2 separate regions of the Homo sapiens genome follow, and region 1 is linked to region 2. The links come from fine-mapping of genetic effects on plasma protein levels. Region 2 holds a variant in brackets. A gene starts in the other region. All regions are shown on one strand. Distances are between the middles of the regions.

What was found. A credible set is the group of variants that fine-mapping cannot tell apart. PIP is the posterior inclusion probability: the model's chance that the variant is causal. The UK Biobank Pharma Proteomics Project read protein levels with antibody pairs (Olink). The fine-mapping took linkage between variants from a reference panel, not from the people measured, so its PIPs are less certain.
Region 1: it holds the start of CHL1, and the variant in region 2 is the best candidate, but not a certain one, in a credible set for the plasma level of the CHL1 protein (UK Biobank, PIP 0.89).

Annotation. Positions count from the first base shown.
Region 1 is chr3:192,282-200,809 of GRCh38, reverse strand. CHL1 (cell adhesion molecule L1 like) reads right to left here and starts at 4,047. Exons shown (of 28, transcript NM_006614.4): 1 at 3,747-4,047. It overlaps CHL1-AS2 (CHL1 antisense RNA 2), which reads left to right and starts at 3,469. Exons shown (of 4, transcript NR_144487.1): 1 at 3,469-3,843; 2 at 4,302-4,354; 3 at 4,770-4,814; 4 at 4,896-5,052.
Region 2 is chr3:98,778,179-98,786,178 of GRCh38, reverse strand. ST3GAL6 (ST3 beta-galactoside alpha-2,3-sialyltransferase 6) reads right to left here. Exons shown (of 10, transcript NM_001323368.2): 6 at 1,139-1,234. It also overlaps the pseudogene PDLIM1P4. Among named protein-coding and RNA genes, the nearest start is that of ST3GAL6, 19 kb to the right of the region's middle. The variant GAAAA/A (reference allele first, on the strand shown) is at 3,069.

The sequences.
Region 1 (8,528 bases), 99 Mb after region 2:
ATTGTTTCCAGTCTCCCCCAAGGGGTGAGAGGAAAGGCATGTGATCACCAAAATATAAGAGATTTCACTTTAATAGCAGAGAAAAGGCTCAATGCCAATTCTACTTGTAGATAGACATAAAATGATAGCGAATAATGTAATCTTTCTTTGAAAGAATGCTTAGCACAATATTTTTCCAGGAACAAACAGAAAGAATATTATGCTTTCACTCATTAGCTGTGTTAACTTAGCATATTGTATGTAAATGACCATAATAATTGCATTCTCTTCCGACTGAATTAGTCAGAATGAAACTGTAATCAAAATGTTCATAATTGAAAATATAGTATTCTCAATCTTGGTTTGAAAAAATAACAAGGAACGTTGACTGAATCAGATAATATAGTACATCACTGAAAACAACCTCAGTACAGAGACAAGTTCATTCTCTTGATTATACCTTTGCATTTCAATTAGGTCCCCAAATTCAGAACTCAACACCTCCCAATCTGTCATGTTTTCCTACTCTTACCATTTGTCTCTGGACTAACTTAAGCATTCCAAGTGCATTGCTGCTAGATTTTTAGGGAAAATAGAAAATGGTGAAAAGCTAATTTTATTGTTTCTAAAATACATTAGACTCTATTGCACTGTTGGCTGTCATAAATTAAAGGGCAAAATAATTTCCAATAAATGAAACATTTAATGCCAAAGCTCCTGGGAAACAATATGTAAATGATCACATGAATTTCAGAGAAGCTGTCACACTAATTCCTCAAGGTACCTTTTAAAGATGACATATTCACAGTGAGGATGAGAGGGTTGTCTTGCAAAGCCAAACACTGCTACCTGAAGTAATACTCTCAGTATTTCCTGACAATCATTCCTTCAAATCTGACACCAGTAGTTCCCCAACTATTACTTAATTTTCTTTTATCGGTTAAAAATACAAGAATCTTAAATCAGTCTTGATCGTTACCCTTATTTTTCTATAAAAGCGAATCAGGCTAAATTATTTCAACAAAGCAATTTTGGGGCAAATAACCTCCTATCTTCAAAGATTTCAGAAGCAACTATAAAATCAGGTTTCTATCTAGCAAATGTTTTTCTGGGTGAGCTCTATTTTGTAAAGGTCACTAAGGATCTTTGTGATGGTGACATCTGTCAGGCTTTACTTGCCTCAAGTTCACCAAGAAATGCCTATATTTTAATAATCAAATGATTTTAAAAATTTATTTAAAACCAATTCATGTAATGAGATGAATTAACTTAAATGCAATAAGTATAGTATGTGCAAAATCAACTCCTCTTAGACCTACAGCTAGGCCCACGAAGTGTACAGTGTACTTATCAGCAGATAGGTTGGAGGACCTATATAACCATGAGGAATCAATAAATATCTATAGCCGTTTCTTTGAAGAAAAGGATCCGTAAGTCTACATGCAACAGATAACAATCTGGGAAACATATATTCATCATCATAGTCTTGTGCTGCAGTGAAGTGGGTACAAACATACCCTGAAAGAGATTTTAATGAGTTGCCATAGCCAGTACTCACACCCATCCAGTAATAACTATTTGTCTCCATTGATTTGCTCACAATATTCAGGAGCTTGCAAGGAATGATTATACACTACGTTCTGCCATTACTAAAGGTAAATCCACTGCAGCACTTAAGGCCATAAAATGGAAAGCCAGGGTATACATAGGCTCTGTAACCACGTTAAATTATGAAAGCCAAATGGTGGTCCCTCACAAAGAGACTGAAATTAAGACAAACCCAACTGCAACATCTGCAGGTGAAAGAGAAAACACAAAGATTTACAAAAGAAAAACTCTGGGATAAACTTTTTATTTTCTTGTCACCAAAAGTTTCCCCAAAGAGCTTCCTAAGCTTCTCTCTCCATCAATATACTGAAAAGCCAACTTCATCGGCAGTTGATCAGTTTCTCTCTTCCAATCTGCTGCAAGGCAGAGCTTCGTAGGAGTTGGACTGTGCAGTACAAATATTCATATTTTAATTAAGATTATTCTCCAAAATTAGAAAACGCAGAATTTTTACTTCAATGAAAATGCAGAGAAATGAAAATGCACCATATGTAATTAAACTGAGGATTAACTAACAGTAATGGCATCAACGACAATAACTTTTGAGTGCTTATTATGCATCAAATATGCATATGGTGTTAAATTTAAAAATCTATGGTGTTAAATTACTTGTATCATCTCATTCCAGTCTTGCAACAACCCAGTATAGAGGGTATCGATAATCTCCGTATTATTGAGAAAGGGAAACTGAGGCACGTAGTTAAATGCCTAGTCCAGAGTGACGCATCACAGTGATGGTGGAGCTGGAATTCGAAGCCACGTGGGCGTCCCGGGAGCCTCCGCCTAGAGCGAGCCCGGGGGGCCCACCAGTTACCATCGCCACGCGCACGCGCAAATCTCCCCGCGCACGGCGCGTTCCCGCGGGAGCGCGCCCTCGCGCACGCGCCTGGCAGGGCAGCCGCTCGCCGGCCCTGGGGCTGCTCCGCGGCTCCCACGAGCGGGACTGGACGCCGGCGCCCTTCGAGGAGGGGCTGAACCTGGGGCGCCCTCTCTGCCGGGCCACCCAGCCCTGCCGACGCACACCTGCCCTCCGCCGCCGGCCTCCCACCCCTTCCCCGCCCGCCTTCCCGCCCAGCAGCCCAAACGCCCACCCTGCGCTCCACCCTGCTGGCCGTCTGGGGCGGGGGTACCTGGGCCCGCGCGGCTGCTGCTCCTCCGGCCCGTGGTTTTTCGCAGGAGTTCCCCGGCCCTGCCCCTGGCTGAGACACTGTGGCTCGCAGCGAGCCCGGAGAGTGGGAACGGAGGGGCTGGCTTTCCCCAGCCTCCCGGCTCCAATCCCTGCTCCCCAAATTAATCACTTTCTCCGTGCTGCCTCCCCACGCACACTCACACTCCAAAAAAAAAAAAAAAGCGAGAGAAAGAGAGAGGCACAAAGAGGAAGAAGGGACCATCCGCGACCGGCATCTCCAGCCCCCCGGGCTCCGCTACCAGGAGCCATGGCAACCACGGCCCCCGGCGCGCCCTCTCGCCCCTCGGCGGTCTGGGGAGGTGGAGCTCTAGCCCCTCTCTGGGTTTTCGTGCTCCCCAACCCCACAACCCCACGGTCCATGGATTCCCCGCTCCAGGCTGGCGGCATTTTCGGAACCCCCCCCGGGCTGGGATCTAGAATCCTCTCCTGAGAGGAGGAGCCACACAGGGGCAGTGGACTGGGGGGGTCTGAGCCCCACACACCAGGCGGTGTCCAGGGGAGCGAGGGGCGCGGTGGGAGACAGAGGCCGGGACTGACCCCCAGACCAGCTAGACCTCGGAGCCCCACCCGAGAGAGGGCGGAGATCTACGGGGGGGTCTGGAATCCTCCTCAGAGAGCAGCGAGGGATGGGGTGGCGGAGGCTGGAAGCGGGAGGGCCAACCTACCGGCGGCCGGCGGGCGTGAGTGGGACCCGGCGGATTCGGGCGCCCGGTGTGCTCCGTCGACTGACCCCGAGCTGTCCGAATCCGGCCTCGGCCACCGGGGGCGGGGCGTGAAAAGGGGGCGTCTCCTCCCGGGTGCAGGCTGAGGGGCCCGGACCACCCCCACTGCGGACGAGGGACCCTGACCGCGCCCCGCTTCCTTTCCATAACGAGTGGACCCCTCCCGGAGCACCTTCAGCCCTTCCTCCACGGGAGACCCCCCCAGCGCCGGCACGAGAGATGCCAGCGGACCCCCACCCCTGACACACCTGCGCCGCCTCCGAAACGCGATCTGTCCGGCGCCTCCCCTCGGGCGCCTTCTCCCCCGAGCCGGCCGGGAGCCGGGACGGGGGCGCGCAGGGTCCGGTAAGCTCTGGGCGGATCCAGGGAGGGTCTCGCCGGCCGCTGCCCGCTGGTCCGCACCCGGGGCTGTCCGCGGAGGTCCCGCCCGTCCCCTCCCGCCGCTGGCTCTCTGGCCGCGGGAAGGCTGGAGCCGTTCTGGCTGGCACCGGGGTCTACGCCCTCCTGCCGGAGGCTGGCTCTCGCCTCTGCTCCCTTCCTGGGTTCTGCGCCGCCACCCCTCACCCACGCCGCTTATCTTCCCTCCCTTTGCACGCTCCCGCGGGACAGGGAGAGTTACAGGCTTCAGACTTTATCTCGTTGTGGAAAGCAAGAGACCAAGCCAAAAACTTTGGTCGTGCTTTTCAACATCTCCGGTCAAAAGAGGTAGGATCCCTGCTCGTTTATCTGCAAAAGCGACATTTAAAAGAAACGCCCCCCACCCCCTCCCCGATGGTTTCACTCGGTTCATGTTGCACACACAGGTCGCCAATCTGCTTTTCTCCCATTGCTGCGTCTTAGAGGGGTGTGGTGCCATGTACGTATTAAAAATTGTCTTCTTGCTTTCCTTCATTTAAGGGCGTGGTGGGGCTTGCTATTGAATTTACAAAATATGCTACGACCATCCGCTGTCAAATTGTGCATGCTTAAATTTACAGATCTTCTACTATCTCACAATTTTTGCCCTAATACAGAGTCTATAATGTTACCACATCGTTTCGTAACGTTTTTCCTACTTATCCTTTATTAATTCACTATTGGAGAGGAAAGCCTTCTGTACTCATATTCAGTGCAAAAAGCCAGTTCTGATGCCTTATGAATCCACAAACACATAAAAATATTTTAGGATTCCAAAATTCATATGGAAAAATTATAATTTTTAGCACTACATTTGATTTATATGCCACTTTATTTTTTTTCCATTATGGTGGTATTTTCCAAAATTTTTACAGGATACCACTTTTGAAAATCCTGTTGAATGCAAGTCCTCTTTGTTGGTAAGAGAATTATTGACTTCTAATTTTTACTCCACTAAGGCTGTGAGATTGACCTTACAGCCTCGTTTTGTTTTCATCTAGCTCATTGAACAATGAGGATATTTAGCTCCCCTCAGAGCTACCCTCAGAGTTGGATGAGCTATCCTCAGAGTTGGATGCCACCACCGGGAGCAGCAAAAGCGAAGGCAACTCATGATTCTGCCTCAGAAGCAATCGAATAAAATATTTTGAAAATGAATGAATGGACTTTTAAATTTTAATCATCGCTAACCTTGGGGCCTCGATTCTGTCAATTTGTGTGTGGGCACAGTTCTTACCAACTGCCTTGGCAAATTGTGAATGCAAGTGAGGGCAGGATTTGTCCTAAGTTTAAATTGTACTGCTGGAGTGATTTCTTTTGCCTGAGGCATCATTATTCACGTGGCATGTTTTCTAAAGTAGAAACAAAGATAGAATATTAAATAAAATTCCAACAGGGGGAAATACTCTGCCTGTAGAAAAACATTTCCAAGGTCAAGGAACCACAAGAGAACAACAAAGCGAAGTTGGTCTCAGGAGTTTACCATCTTCTGGGTGAACAAACATCAGCTGAGCAAGGGACTCGGAACTCCATTTTGGCCAGATGAACAGAGTACTCTTAAATATATAGCTCCTTCTTTCTTGGTGATTTGTTTCTTGACAATAGAATCATTATTTACAAAACAAATATTTATTGAGCAGCTACTATTTAATCAATCACTGGTCTGGGTGCTGGGCTCAGTAGGAAACTCAATAGGCATGGCCAGTAGCTTTTTAAAAAATCAAATACCCTCCAAATATATTAGACAGTACCAAGCCACAATACCCAAAACAAGAAGATGGCCAGTTCTTAACTATGAGTTTTTAACTGAAAGGGAGATAACATTCTTCTAAGCTTCTGGCATTGCATATAAATGAAGAAATAATAGCCACACATAGCTTACTAGGGACAGTAAGGAAGTCAGCTTGTATGCAATACACGTTATCCCAGGCAACCAAATTTTACGAAAGAAAAGAGGGAGATAGGGAAAGTCTAGGGAAGGAAAAAAGGGAGGAAGGAAGGAAGGAAGGGAGGAAGGATGGAAAGAAAGAAGGCCAGCAAATGATAAACCAAGAAAGGAAATCGTACTTTTTAAGGCAATGCAAAAGGAAGACAGATGACCTAAATTTCTACATCCAAGAAACACCTCATAGCTGTCGCTTCCAAGGATGAGTTCATATTTTTGATACATTATCAAAAGCAGGCAACACATCTAGGCTTGCCTGGCCCCAGGAATTCACAACTCTACAGCCTGAGCTTCCAGTAAGGCTGGAACCAGAAGACAGTCCCCAGCCAGAGCGGATGCTTGCTAGAGATACCTTCTGCTGCTGCTTTGGAACCCTCCCCTGGCTCCCATTCTACTGTCTGACACTTGGTTCAGACCCATTTCCCATTCAACATACAATCCTAATCTATCAGGCATCCCACAGTTGCACCTAGGTGCTAGAGAAAGAAGATATACTTATGAGTCACATGGAAATGTGATTGCCGTAGCTTTGAAAGGTGTGAATTTTCTCTCTGATAATTGAGGACGGCCGTTTCGAATGAAAATACTAATATCAAGCCACAAAAATAGGGGAGAAAAGGGCCCTATCATGAATAGAAGCAGAAGGTGAGAGAGAGGCCAGTCATCTGGAAAAAGATAAAAGCTATTAAAAGCTGGGGCATTTTTCAGCTTTTCCTGCTGATTTACTGCCTCCCTCCCTCCCTCCTGAACCATCATTTGGTATCATTCCCAGAGCTAGGGCCATTGAAGTAGTATTGCCTTTTGGCAAATACAAGTAGCTAGTGATGTGGCATCATTCCTAGAAAAATTGTTTAGCAGAAGAGCTGGAGTTTTGAAAATGGCATTTCAGTCTAGCAGTTCCAAATAGTCACAGATCAACAGGGGCTTTCCGGCCAACTGCTGTAATAAAAAATAAAAATAAAAAATAAAAAGCAGGAAGCAGGATGTTCCACTGAGGAATAGATCCTTCAAAAGCAACCTTGAAAGTACAAAGCAGCCACTTCAGCTTTGATATTAATAAAGCTAAAAAGACCATATTAATTCTGCAGAGTTATCCTGACAGAGTCACTACTCCTTTAACTTGTCCTTTAATACAAGAACAAAAGGATATGTATTAAAAATCAAAGGGCAATAATTCTGGAACAACTAAAAAGGTAAAATCTTGTATTGCATGCCATGGATCATTAATATGTATAATTCAGCCCTGGGAGGTCATGAAATCAAATACTTTCACTGGATTTTTTAAAAAGGCTAAGAAACTTTGTGGCCATTAATAACATTATAATTATGTAGCCAAGATAATGTTAAGTGTTTTCAAATCTCATGCTTTAAGGCATCCATTGATTACTTGTGCAGGTCAGAAGGATTTCCCACCCTCCAATCAGCAATGCCTACAATGACTAGTTTTCTCTCCTATTGATGGTTTGCTCCAAAGTCCTATGCCCCCAAGTCTTATCTCAAAGGCCTGTGAACTGAGTTATAGGATGAATTCCTATTTGTTGGAGAAAGTCCTCATATGTCTGGAGGATGAGAATTTCTTCTAAACCTCTCTATTTCCAACATGGTACGAAATCTTTTCAGTCTGGAAGGGACCTCAGAAAACATAATCTTCCATAGCTTCTTTTTATATCTGAAAAGAGTAAGGTTCAGAAATTTTATCAGAGTTGTACAACTGGTTAATGGCCGAGAATATATTGAAAAAAATCTCCAAGTTTTTAATCTTGTATCATTTTACAGGATGAAAAGTCACTGCCATCTTTGAAGATAATTTTATTTATTATTATTCTGTTGCAGCAAACAAGACAAATGTCGAATAGTGGGATAGCGAGTAATACCAGGAGCATAAAGGCTGATCTTTTTACAGAGACACATAGCCAAAATGAAGTTTCTCCTTTTCTTTTTTTTTCCAGTTGTTTTTGAAAGTATGTTTTCCACTCAATGTAACAGAAACATGTTAGAGAAAAAGGAAAGACCAACAAGAGCTTGTGGCAGCCACAGGTTGTTCTCCACTTCCTCTGCCCACTAATCTGTTTTTTGTTGTTTTTGTTGTTGTTGTATGTGACGGAGTCTGGCCCTGTCGCCCAGGCTGGAGTGCGGTGGCGCGACCTCGGCTCCCCGCAAGCTCCGCCCCCCGGGTTCCCGCCATTCTCCCGCCTCGGCCCCGGGAGTAGCTGGGACCACAGGCGCCCGCCAACCCGCCCGGCTCATTTCTTCTTGTATTTTTGGTAGAGACTGATTTTCACCATGTGAGCCAGCATGGTCTCCTGACCTCGTGATCCGCCCGCTTCGGCCTCCCAGAGTGCTGGGGTTACAGGCGAGAGCCAATGGCGCCCGGCCTAGTTCTTTTTCTCCTTCTGGACACAGGGCCGCTAACCTAAAGACTAAATTTTCTAGTCACTCTTTTGACTTAGTTTGGTTCTAGGACTAGGTTCTCACCAAAGAGACATGAGGAAAAATGCTGTTGGCAACTCTCAGCTCATCTACTTAAAGATCATCTAGATTCACTTCTCCTTTTCCTTTTGACTAACCCACAGTAGTAAAAGGCTCATGTTGAGGATGACAAAGAAACCCCACTCTGGCCTGAATTCCTACATGACTCTGAGGATCAGAACCTACTTAATACCATAAAAAATTGAATGTCCCCTTTCAA
Region 2 (8,000 bases):
TAGGCCACACACCATCAAGATTTTAACCTGTTTATCCAACTGCCTACTCGACAAACCCACTGCAAATCTAACAAGCATCTCAAATCTAACATGTTCATATCATGGTTTTCCTCTAAACCTGCTCCTATACCAGTCTTCCCCAACTTAATAAATGATACCACTCTCCAGCCAATCTCCTAAGCTGAAAACAGAGTAGGAGGCATCCTTGATTTCTTTATTCTCATTACTCTTCACATCTAATACGGCAACAAATCCCGATAACTCTATGTCTAAAACACATCTTCAGTCAGTCCACATATCTCTTCCTCTCCTACAACAATCCTGTCCCAAGCCACCATCATATTATACCCGAATACAGCAACCTAATTGGCCTCTTCATTTCCACCCTTGTCCCCCACATTCCATTGTCCATGCCACAGCCAGAATATTTAAGACATAACCAGACTGCTTTGTTCTCTTGCTTAAAACCCTTAAAAAGCTTCCTGTTGCACTTAAAATCCAAGTTTCTAATCCTAGCTTACAAAGTCCTATGCAGCCTGATCTTTGCTCACCGCTTCAGCTTCCAATTCCACCACTCTCCCCCTGCCTGCTACTTTCCAGCTTCACTGGGTTTCTTTGCTACTCCTCTCAAACTCAGGATCATCTCCTCCTGAGGCCCTGCAGCAAACATCCTTTCTGCCTGGACTGCTCTACCATAATCTTCATATGGCTGTTGCTGTGTGGTCACTTGGGCCCTGCTTAGATGTCTCTTTCTCAAAGTGGTCAATCATTACAAAGGAGCCATTCAAAGATTCTCTGTTATATCCTTTTTAAATTATGTATGGCATTTATTATTTTTATATATTTAATTACTCATTTTCTTCCCTCCACAGGGAGCACAAACATTGTTCTTATCCATTGCTATCTCTCCTGTGGCTAGAAGCATGCTAGCACACTAAGGAGACTTAACAAATACTTGCTAAATGAGTAACCTGAAATCTAGGTCTAACTCTAGCCAACAACCAAGAGAGAAGGTTGTGCAATAAAAAAAAAACCAAATGGAAACATCTCCCCTTCCTGTCAAAACACAGCTGTATTAAGGCAAGAAACCATATTCTTTTGAAACAATTCTAGGGTAGCAAATAGAAAATATATTTACCTTATTATTACATCATAGGAGTCGATTTTTTCTCCTAATGTCTTATTCTTCAAAACTCCTCCATTACCAACCACCACACACTTTTTACAGGGTATGCTGTTGGACAGATGGACAAGTGAGAGATTGAGCCATCTTTTACAAAACTGATTCCAAGAATCCATGCATACTGTCAGAAACCCAGTGCCAAATTCCACTTGTTGCGCAAGTAGAAAAAGAACCAACTGCGACTTACAAGTCTAGAGCTGTATTAAAAAGATACAAGATTCAATGAGTAACATTCTATAGGAAGAGCATATCATTGTCAGCAACTATTATCAGCCCATACATGTTCTCTCATTTGATTCTCATACCCACCTATTGAGATAAGTAAGCCTGATATTCCCAGTATACAAATGAAGAAAGAGGTTCAGAAATCTATTATGTAACATTTTAAAGTCATACTCCAAAGTGGAACTAGCATGTGGATCCAGAACTTGAGACTGTGAAACACACCTCCATATAGGACTCTGCATTTGTGTTTTACATTATGCAGGTCTACATTCTTTGCCAGCATTACCCACTCCTCGAAGATTCTACCTCTGGCTCTCTGCTGCACAAGTGTGGAGATGGACAGTTTGGAATCTGGTGAGAAAAGTGCAGTTTTCTGTACCCTGCCCATGCTCACTTCAATTTCTCAAACATGGACTGGTCCTTGGAGCTTAACCAATACAAACTAAAAGTTCACGCGGTGTTCCTGGCAAACAGCTTTAAAGTAGAACACAAAGGGGAACTTCGTGTTGCTGGTCCATCTCTCTCCCAGCTCTTACCCTCACCCAGGCAGGCCTGGAGAAATGACAAAATAGACTGTGTCCTTGCCCGCTAGGGAACAAAACCACAGAAGGGAAAGTTGTTGAGGCTATCCTTCCAGGGCCCTCATGGCATGGAAAGTCTAAAGAGAACACTGTTTCCCTAAGACCCGTGAAATCAGCAGACCAGATGAACTCAAGACCTTAAGGATTTTAGGAAATCAATGAGTAGCAAAACTGTACAAACACTGTAGAACCCAGAAACATGGAGAATGTGAGAATTCGGAAACTGTTTAAAAGAGCCAAGCATTGGCTTTGTCAGGTAAACAGGAGATGATGTACACACTCCTATATTCATTAAATTTACCTTTTTTGAGTAGTACAGTTCATCTGATTGTAAGGTTTAAAATTTAAAAAATACTTTTAACATATTTTAATTGGAAGCTCTATGCTCTCAAATATTAAAGAGTCATGCCTAAATCAGTGTCTACCTAATCAGTCAAGAAAAATAAGTACCAGTGGCACAGGTTGGTAAGGACTTGGGGGCGGGGAGGGCTGTCCAGCAGATGCTCCTTCAGTGTGTGCCTGAAACCTCGCCTTGTGGACACATCTCATGTCACAGTAGGTTCCAGAAGGGTCTGTTTGTTCATTTAAATTTTCTTTGCATTTTTTTTATTTCTTTTTTCTGGGAGTCTATAGATGGAGCAAAAATGAAATCAATGTCAGACATATTATATTTGATTTGGTTCAAATGTGGCTGATGTCCATTTGCAGCAGAGAAGAACTGAGGGGAGGAAGGTACACAGTGTTGCCGGCAAGGGGACACTGAACAAAAACAGTTTGCCATTCATTGTAAAAGTGGGCGGGCACCACACAGTCAGTGTGAGTCAGTTAACCAAGACAAGGGACTCAAGGTTCAATGAGCAGGGATAAAACCAAGGTAAGCGGGTTGTGGGGTGGGGGAATAAGTACAGAACTTTCAAGAGACAAGGCCAGAACATTTAGAGAACTAGCTGCAGCAGAGGCTGGCTGGAGAACGGTGGTCAGTGCAGGTCTGCTGGATCACTTGGGGAACATGATGACCACATCGTACCCTCAAGTGGTGTGACTTGCTCCTGGGCATGCTCTTCACAGTAGATTTGATG[GAAAA/A]AAAAAAAAAAAAAGCCCTTCTCTTTCGGGTGAGTGTCACAATCAGTGCACACGTAACATTCAGGGAGGGGATGATGGTCCCCGCAGCTTTACAAACATGCCTACAATGCCAGGACCACATTTGTCACACATGGGCACCTTCTGAGCATTTCCAATTGATGCAGCCACTGAGTAATAGACTGAGCTGAGTAACACTTCTGAATCCTGAGGGTTGTTGAGATCCCCTTTTATCTCAGACTCCAGGATTTCCTGCAAAATCAGGAAAGAGGTAGACTGTTTCAGGGGTTCATTCAACTCCTGTTTCTCCTGAAGCATCTTGTAAACTTCAGATTCTTTGTTGATTATGAGACCACTTGGAGGCTGAACATGATCTATGGACACGCCATTGGCCTCCTCCCTGCTGGCAGCAGTTTTTGAAATACCAGCAATATGGTATCTCAAAGTATTGTTGAAGTTGGAGATGTTTTCAGAAGAGAGGCCAGCTGGGTTACTGTACTGGTTTGGATGACCCCAGGGACAGTGCTGGAAGCAGGAGAGGCAGTAAAGAGCATGGTACTTGGATTGTAGGCACTTCCTACGTGCAGGACCTCCTGGGGTTCAGAGTGTAAATTCATCTTGTATGGATGACACTTCCTTTTCTCCATCACCAGAAGAGACTAGATTTTATATTCAGATCTGGCTATTGTGAGAGTCATGGTACAGCCTTTTGACTTTTTTCTGAGCTTCCAAGGGCATCATATTGCTGATATTTTCCCTATCAATGGCTGTAATTACATCTTGCATACATCAATTAGCTATAGCAGCCTTGCTTCTGAAAGTGACTGGGAAAACAGCTGAGAAGCTACTGGAAGTCCTTGCTGTCCAGCAGGCGGAAGCCTCATGGTCCTGGGCTCTCTGTTTCTAAATAAGAAAGTAACATAACTCTAGATGCTTTTACAAGCAAGTTTGATTTCAATCCCTATTCTAGAAAGCCAACTTTATCAAAGGCTCTCTGCTGTGGGGCCATGTAGTATGGCTGAGATGGGAGCTGCTGAATATTCAAAACCCTTTCCTCTCAGGGTATTATTGCCATTATCCTCCCCAAATCATCCCATGAATATGCTATAGGAGGGGGCGATTCTCACACTCCCAGCTTGCTTGCCCTTTCCATAACCTCAGGGTCAGTTTAATTCAGATCAGAGGCTACACCTCCTAAAGCTGGCTCCATCTCCACTAGGAATGTTAAGCAAGGCTGGGCACTGGGGAAGGCATGGCTAAGACAAGATTGAAATAACAGCTGTTCCCATGAGATAACCTGCATAGGGGTAGAGGGGGAATATCTATAGATGGTATCTAGTCTAATCCTCTCCATTCAATGAAGGCTGTAGGCCAATCCTCTGTCAAGAAAAGGGGCTGCCTCGCCCTGAGCCCAGGTGCCTCAGGGGCTCCTGCATCCATCCTGGCCTGGAGTTCCCAGTCTGACACTGGGCTACCTGACTCCACCTACATGGAACATGCAGGGGCAAAGGCCAACAAGCCACCAGCATACCACCAGAGCCCCTGTCCTCTACAAAAGACTCCTGAACAACAAGCCAAATATCTGAAGTTGACCCCAGAAAGGTTACTCAGCTCAGTCTATTTTTTTTTTTTTTTATACTTTAAGTTCTGGGATACATGTGCAGAACGTGCAGGTTTGTTACATAAGTATACAAGTGCCGTGGTGGTTTGCTGCACCCATCAACACATCATCTACATTAGGTATTTCTCCTAATGCTATCCCTCCCCTAGCCCCCAACCCTGCGACAGGCCCCAGTGTGTGATGTTCCCCTTCCTGTGTCCACGTGTTCTCATTGTTCACCTCCCACTTATGAGTGAGAACATGCAGTGTTTGGTTTTCTGTTCCTGTGTTAGTTTGCTGAGAATGATAGTTTCCAGCTTCATCCATGTCCCTGCAAAGGACATGAACTCATTCTTTTTTATGGCTGCATAGTATTCCATGGTGTCTATGTGTCACATTTTCTTTATTCAATCTATCATTGATGGGCATTTGGGTTGGTTCCAAGTCTTTGCTATTGTGAACAGTGCTGCAATAAACATACATGTGCATGTAGTATAAAGTCTATATAGTATAATGTCTATATAGTATAATGATTTATAATCTTTTGGGTATATACCCAGTAATGGGATTGACTGAGCTCAGTCTTAGACGTGGTCAGTTATATAACATTGCTCAACAATGAACTGATAGCTTAGACCTTAGTGTTCACAGAAGTTTCCACTCTATCACACTGAGTTACAGATGGTCATCAAGCCCTAGATAATGCGTGGCCCAAAGAGTATCATGGTAAGAGTAGCTACCATCTGTCATATACATGTGCCATTATCACTGGTCATCACTCAGACTCAAGGTCCTGGACCTCCACCCACATACCCTATAAGCCAAGAAAAAAGAGGGGTCTAGGGTTTCAGGCAGATCTCTTCTGCAGGGCAATTCCTCATACTCAGCCTCTCCTACTTATGGTCCCAGCAGTTCAAGGACTTTTAAAAAACAGGAAGAAATAACATAGACATTGCCTCATTTAGAACGCCCATTCCAAAGATTCTTTGCAGCTCTACGTCACCATATTTTTAGGAGTTTCATTCTACTTTTTTTTCCTGTCAGCTTATAGGGGACAAACAGAAAGAGAGAAGGGCCTTTACTATAGGAAATCATGCCAATGCTTTTGAAAGGAAACCTTATCAATGAAAGTCCACTTTTCCTCCTGGTAAAGGATATTGCAAAGATTTACGCATTTTTCTGAAAATCACATAGAAACTCTTTTGAGGGCATCCCTAGGACTACTCTTTGGCAATAACACTTTATCTACAGCTAGTATTCATAGTACCACCATGGCTCTGGGAAGTATGGAATGGTACAGATAAGCTGTCTGAATCGCACTCCTCGTTACTCATTGCTTCCCTCACTCTCTAGCAAGTACCCCATACTCTGAAAGGACTGATTCATTCTCTCCTTGACTTCATCCATTTGGCTTGTGATTCTGGCTTCCTCTGCCTTTTTATGTGTGGAACAATGACTTTCAGTGTCCTTTGGGTGACTGTAAAACTTCACATATTTAATTAACATAACTTTCATGTAGAAATAGCTGCAGTAAATTGTGAGTCCCTAGAGGAAAGAATAGTATCATTTATATCTCTGTATCCTCCCATCTACAACACTTCCTGATTCACAGGCTGTGCATTTTAGAATTCAGTTTGGTTGTTACATTAAGTATATGGAGGTTATTTCCCTACTTTGTGTTTGGAGAAGGAATTACTTTTTACTCCTCCAACCACCCTGGAAACACGGAGGAAAATGCGTATGCTCTAAACTGCTTACCCAGAAAACAAAATAATTGTTTTGGAACCTGTTAATGGAAATCTGGAAAGCTGCTAAAGCAGTGGTAGTAAGAGATTACACTTCCCCCAGGTGAAAGCTGTGTTTCTCATAAAGTCAGGCAAAAGCTGGAAGAGTCATTACCTTATGCAGAGGGAAACATTAAACACAATCAATATAGAGCAAGCAAACTTGAGTTGCCCATTTCAAATGATCTATGATGTGTTTTATTTTACAAATGCTTTTTGACATGCATTTTCCCTTCAATACCATCATGTACATTAAAATACATGACTCTACCTTCAGTGTAACAATCTATGGCAAATCATACCACTCACATTCCCAACACCCATTACCCCATGTGCCTTGCTAGCAGATCCCTGCTTTCCTAAGCCTATAATAGTGAGCTCATTGTCTCTGCCAATGTTTCATCTAGACATAGCCATGTGACCCATCCCTGGGCAATAAGATATTAGGGAAGTCTATTAGATGCTTTTGGAAGAGATTTTGCTGCTGCCAAAAGAATCATGTGAACAGGATACTTCATTACTCACTTCTTCCTTTCTGCTTAGACATTGACACGTGATAACAAAAAGTTAGAGCAGCTACACATCAGAGAAAAAGACAGCCACAGAAAAACTACCCTGGAGCCTTGACATCACTGAGCCACTAACTCAATCCCCCAACCAGGGCCACTCCAAACATATGTGCAAGTTGTACACAGTCCAATGTCCGGGAGCACCATTCAGATAACTATATGAATGAATCGGTACTCCCTGGAGTTGTGCAATCCACAGTCTGTACAGCCATAAGCAGCCCCACACTGCAAGCTGGAACCACAAATATGCAGACCTGAATCCACATGTCTACGCAATACAGGAGATAATAAATGTCCACGTAGTTTAAATCACTCCTAGTGAAGACTATTACTTGCAGCCAGGAGATCCTCAAACTACACAAGGAACTGTAGTTGGAGACCTGGTTGCTAGTTCTGGCTCCTCCGCTTAGCACCTCTTAGGACCTTGGTGTAGTAATCTGACCTCTCTGATCTCGGTTTGCTCTTTTGTGAAGTAAGGGAATCACTTAGGTCTTGTATGTTACTCTCTGATGGAAGAGACCATTTCCTTTGGCAAAAGTACTGAGACTTCTATACCTTTACCCAACATCTGACCACAGCCGATGCTAGAAAGCAGGCAGGGGCTGCTTCTGCATATTCACCACAAATGATTCACTCTGTTGATGTAGAATCGCAACTTCCCCTCATCCTCAAGCTCTCCTTGCTAAAAATCCTGCAATGTAAAGAAACTCTGCAAAACAGCAGAATGTCTAAAGTAGGGAGGCAGATATTGATATTCCGTTTAGAGTTAGGACTCTTTTTCAATAAATACACCACTAATGTCTAATTCTTTTTTAAGTTTTCTAAAGACATGCTCCTGGCCTGGCTGGTAGTCAATCTAACCCAGCTTTGCTGATGCTGACATAATGGATGCTGCTTGAGAGAGCAACCAGGCAGCTTTTACAAATCCTTGTCCATTTAGCAGGCAACTGACTTGACACAGGTGCTTTAGTCAGGTAA